Regions from separate parts of the Homo sapiens genome. Here region 1 is linked to region 2. Evidence: fine-mapped expression QTL. A gene starts in region 2. The other region holds a variant in brackets. All regions are shown on one strand. Distances are between the middles of the regions.

What was found. PIP is the estimated chance that this variant, and not a neighbour inherited with it, causes the effect. A credible set is the group of variants that fine-mapping cannot tell apart.
Region 1: its variant is the best candidate, but not a certain one, in a credible set for the expression of DRP2 in fetal neocortex (Walker 2019, PIP 0.68).

What each region holds. Positions count from the first base shown.
Region 1 is chrX:100,947,712-100,950,623 of GRCh38, reverse strand. It overlaps a transcript of XKRX not described here. Among named protein-coding and RNA genes, the nearest start is that of XKRX, 20 kb to the right of the region's middle. The variant T/AAAAT (reference allele first, on the strand shown) is at 1,243.
Region 2 is chrX:101,218,126-101,221,037 of GRCh38, reverse strand. DRP2 (dystrophin related protein 2) reads right to left here and starts at 1,252. Exons shown (of 24, transcript NM_001939.3): 1 at 892-1,252.

The DNA.
Region 1 (2,912 bases), 270 kb after region 2:
ATCTGTTTTGGTGAAGATTCCATGTGCTCTTTAAAAGAACATCTGCTCTGCTGTTGGTGGGTGAAATATTCTGTAAATGTCAATTAGACCTTGATGGTTGATGGTGGTGTTCAGTCCTTCTATATCCTTTTTGATTTTGATCTGTTATTTGTTGAGAGAGAAATGTTACAAGTTTTAAATACAATTGTGGACTTATCTATTTGCACTTTCCTATCTATTAGTTTTTGCTTCATGTATTTTGCAGTCTGTTGTTTGGTGCATATAATTCCATTTTCATTTATTTATATAGGTTATGAATATATATTTTATATGGATATTTAAGTGGTTGTTCTAATTATTGCATTATACATAAGTAATTTACCACAGTCTTCTACTGTCAACATTTTAACCTTTGGGAAGTTTTCAGCTATTATTTTTTCAGAACTTTTTCAGCCCCCTAGTCTTTCTATTTTTCTGCTGGAACTCCAGTGATACGAATGTTCTGTTTTTCTTCATTGTCCTTTAGGACCCTGAGGCTCTGTTCATTTCTTTTTAGTCTGTTTTCTCTCTTGTTCACATTGGGTAATTTTTGTTGTTCTATATTCAAGTTCACTGATTTTTTTCTTCTGTCATATTCATTCGGCTATAGCCCATCCAGTGAGTTTTAAAATTTTTATTGTTTTATTTTTTAATTCTAAAATTTTCATTTGGTTCTTTTTTATATGTTCTGTTTCTTTGCTGAGACTTCTTTTCATTTGTTTCAAGCATACTTTAAATTGCTTGTTGAAGCATTTTTATAATGATTGCTTTAAAATCCTTGTCAGATCATTCCAACATCTGTGTCAGCTCAGCACTGGAGTCTGTGGATTTTATTTTCTCATTCATATTGAGATTTTTCTGATTCTTGGTATAAGTGATTTTCTATTGTATTTTTGACATTTTAGGTATTGTGTTGTGAGACTAAACATCTTATTTCTGGCTGGGCATGGTGGCTCATGCCTGTAATCCCAGCACTTTGGGAGGCCGAGGTGGGCAGATCACCTGAGGTCAGGAGTTTGAGACCAGCCTGGCCAACATCTAGTGAAACCCCGTCCTACTAAAAATACAAAAATTAGCTGGGCATGGTGGTGCACGCCTTATAGTCCCAGCTACTTGGGAAACTGAGGCAGGAGAATCACTTGAACCAGGAAGGCAGAGGTTGCAGTGAGCTGAGATTGCACCACTCTACTCCTGCCTGGGCGACAGAGCAAGACTCCGTCTCTC[T/AAAAT]CAAAAAAAAAAAAAAACAACCAAAAACATCCTGTTTCTTTTTCCTTTTTTGCAGGCAGTCACCCTGGGTTAAATGTGGTGTGCAGGTCTGTGTTGGAGTGGATATACAGCTTTCTGCTGGACCCTGCTGACACTGGCAAAAGTGAAGCACCTTGCCCCATCTTGTTGCCAATGGATGGAAGTGAAAGTTTAGTTCCCCACTCAGCCTTGCAGATACCTCCCTGGCAAAAGCATAGAACTGACTCACATCACTTTGTTGCTGCTGGGTGAGATTGTAAGTTCTGCTCCCTGTCGGGCCTTGTCGACTGACACAGGGATTAGAGAGAAGCAGAATACTGCCACACTGTTTTGTTCTACCTTGTTGGCACTGTGGGGAAGGAGGGAAGTTCACCTCACTGCCAGACCCCTTCCAGGTGGGGGAATGCGGAATGGAGGGATGACTTGCACCAACTCATTGCTGTCAGGTAGGGATGGCCCCACTAATACTACCCCAGTGGGGAAACTGGAGGGCCATCTAGCACCACTTCTCATAGCCTGGTTCCACCTCTTTGCTACTGGGGAGATAGGGTGGAAGTTCACTCCTGTTTGGTCCTGCTGATACCACCCCTGTGGGGGAGGCGCAGGGCCTAGTTGCCCTGCCTAACTGCTGCCATGTGGAGGCAGACATGGGTATCTCTGTTTGGCACAGCTGACACCACAGGGAAGGGGGAAATTTTCCTTTGATGTTTGATTAGGGTAGAGTGGATATTATCAAAAAGATTTTCTCTTCTGCTAGGCCACCCTTTTCCTAGTCATTTAACTAAAGGAAACAGAAAGGGGCTCTTTTTTTGGGTCTGGGCCTATTGGCAGTTTCAGGTTGCAGGCTTCTCCAGCGCCCCATCTGGGATTTATGGTAGACAGCTCATTAGTGTAGTGTTCTTTAGGTCCTAAGGTCTCTAGGTAATCCACCTTGTCCTTTCCACCTTTCAAAGTCTTCCCATGCTTGATTGTTTTTACATCAAGGTTTTCTGTTTTATTTTAAGAGGGAGGAGTAGTGAGAAATGGGTCATTGATTTTTTTAAAAAGATACTTAATTCTTTCTTTCTACTTTCTTTGGTTATGCTATTTTGTTACTTACCTGTATTTTTGAGGTGACTGTTTAGTGCATTTATTGTCAATGAAAATAATTCATGTATTGGCTGGTCGTGGTCACTCACGTCTGTAATCCCAGCAATTTGGTAGGCTGAGATGGTTGGATCACTTGAGTTCAGGAGTTGAAGACCAGCCTGGGCAACATGGTGAAACCTGTCCCTCCAAAAAAAAAATACAAAAATTAGCTGGGCGTGGTGGCTTGTGCTTGTAGTCCCAGCTACTTGGGAGGCTGAGGTAAGAGGATGGATTGAGCCCAGGAGGAGGAGGTTGCAATGAGCCAAGATCATGCCACTGCACTCCAGCCTGGGCAAAAGAGCCAGACCCTGTCTCCAAAAAAAAAAAAAAATTCATGTATTATCAGTTGAAATACATTTGAATATATTGGAATAAATAAGTGAATGTAATGCTGCAACTTTCTTATGAGTACCACTTTAGCTGCATAGTATAGGTTTTGATGGGTTCCGATTTTCCTGCTGATTATTTTTACAGTTTGTAATTTCTGTTTTGATTCTCTGTTTAACTCAAGGGTTATTTAGAAG
Region 2 (2,912 bases):
TACCAAAGGAAGGATAAACATTAACTACCCATATAGTCTCAGGCCCACTTACTAGGCTGGGGCACTTGGTCCGATGCTGGGAAAGGTGGTGAGAGCAGAAGGTGATAGGGTGTTGGACTCCAAGAGAAGCAAGCCCTATTTGAAACCACTCCAAGCTATGCTTTCAAGAGTGGAAAGATGCCTCCTGATTACAGGGTGTAGAAAGGAAACCAGGGGAGAAGATAAGGGGGAAAAATGTCACAGGAAAAACAACAGAGCCAGGAAGTAAATACAGAGATGAGATGAGCCCTTCAGCTCCAGGCTCTTAGGTCAGAGCCTGGTTTACTTCAGCAAAGAACTCCTGTGTCCTGTCTGCTGGCCAGAATACTCATTTGTTCAGGGAACCTGCTCCAAGGTCCCATGTTTCCTCTCTCCTCCCTTGTTAGCCAAGGCTTTCCACACACCTTTGCTTCCCTCCTGCCAAGAAGTATACCCTTGGACAAAAAGCATGCTATTGAGAACCTAAAATAAATAAATGCCCCTCTTTTCTCAAAGAAGCAAACTGTGTACCTCCTTCTTATTCATTTTTAGACCTTAGTTGCTCAAATCGGCTTGAGTTTCTATTCTTGGGCATCTTTTTTTTTTTCTTTATGAATCTAAATGGTGACTACTTTATTGTGGGCATTTTTAAATGCAAGTTTTCCACTAAAGGCACATGCAAGCAGACCGCAGGCAGGCACGCGTACACACACACACACACACACACACACACGCACACACACACTCATTTTCCCTCTCTCCCCCCACCCCTCGCCCGCCACACAGTACCTCTGGAGCTTCCCCTCCCTCAGTCATTTCCCCTCAGCCAGCTGAACAAGGCCAAGGCTTGGAAATAATTTTTCTGTGGCCTACCTTCTGATTCCGTCAGGTCTGAGAAGCAGGCGGCAGCTGTAAGCTGGGAGGCCGGGGCTGGGCTGCCTCTGTGAATCAGCAAAGAAGTCCCTGAGACAGGGATGCCGACAGCTGCTGTATGCACACTCTCCCTCTGTCTCTCCCACTTCCCTGTCTTCCTTCTTCTCCTCCTCCTCCCCTCTCAGAGCTGCTCTGTGTTGCTATGCAATCATATCACCAGGACTAACAGCATCATTCCGACCTCAGGCAAAAATACCCTTGACTGGGCAAACGCAGGAAGAGCAAGGACAGTTTTGTAAAACTACCAGAGATGTGGCGGCTCTTGGAGATGTCAATTCATTAGAAGCAGAGGAGGAAAGCGGAAGAGCCTGAGAAGCAGAGGGGGAGAGAAGGAGACAAGGAGAGGGGGAAGAGGGAGAGAGGGGGAGAGGGGGAGAGGGGAAGAGGGGGAGAGGCTTCCACTGGGGAGGAGGAGACAAAAGAGCCCTGGAGATCAATCAGGCTGCTGAGCGAGCAGCCTGGACCCCAACTTACACCGATCTAGCCCACAGACAAAACCAACTTTGGAGCCAGCAGCTGGCAGGGGCCCCTCGGTAGCCAGTCCAGGATTCTGCTTCTGTGTTGAGGGTTGAAACACTGTGGTCTGGAATCATCACTGGTACTCAAGGTACAGTTTTGGGCTCAGGACAGTCTGCCAGTCACCCCTAAGTCTCATCCTCACACCCTCTTAGATCTCACGTGTAGAAAAAGCCTCAACAAATTGGGGAAACAAAATGGATCTTGAATAATTCAGGAAAATACAGCTCCTCCATGACTCACCTCAATGACTACTACCCCAGGCACCTTCCTGCTTTTGTCCATACCAGCCCTTACTCTTTTAACTGTCACGCTTGTTAAAGAGAAGAGGGTATGAGCTCCAAACACCCTCAGAGACCTGGGAGAAGCCACTGGCAGGATAGATAAGATTATATCCCTTTACCAAGTGCCCAGCACACAGTAGGTTACTTAATAAATATATGTTGAATGAGTAAATTGAATGAATAGGTGGATGAATAGCAGTCAGAAAGTCCCCATCCTCACCCTCCTACACAAACATACAAAGATTTAAAGCCCCAGCAGTCCCAGGCCACAGCAAAGGATAAAAGCAGCTTTCTTCTTTCCTCCCTCCATCTCTGGGAACAGGGTGTATATGGAGAGAGACAAAGACTGGTTGGGAGTGGGTTGCTTAAGTTCACTGATTTGCCTCTAAAAATTTTATAAGCTCTGATGGCACTGGAACTTAGAAAATACTTCCTAGGGTCGGGCGTGGTGGCTCACGCCTATATAATCCCACACTTTGGGAGGCCGAGGCAGGCGGATCACAAGGTCAGGAGTTCGAGACAAGCCTGACCAACATGGTAAAACCCCCGTCTCTACCAAAAAAATACAAAAATTAGCTGGGCGTGGTGGTGTGCGCCTGTAATCCCATCTACTCAGGAGGCTGAGGCAGGAGAATCACTTGAACCTGGGAGGTGGAGGTTGCAGTGAGCCAAGATCGCACCACTGCACCCAACCTGGGTAACAGAGCAAGACTCTGTCTCAAAAAAAAGAAAAAAAGAAAGAAAGAAAGAAAGAAAATACTTCCTAGGACTAGTATTTACATAGGATCTAGGACTAGTATTTACATAGGATCTAGGACTAGTGTTTACAAAGTGTCTAAAGGACCCAGAATTACTGTTTTTTTTCAGTTCCATTTTAAAATTATTATGTGATTTTTTTATGAAGTATTTTTATTATTTATTTTTAATTGACAAATAATAATTGTATATATTTATGGGCTCCAGCGTGATGTTTTGATCTATGTATACTATGCAGAAAAATTCAGCCCAGCCAATTAACATATTCATCATCCCACCAACTTATCATTTTTTTTGTAGCAAGAACATTAGAAATCTATTATTTTAGCAATTTTGATACATATAATACATCATTAATAACTGTGGTCATCATGATGATCATTACTATTATTGAAAACCTTCAGC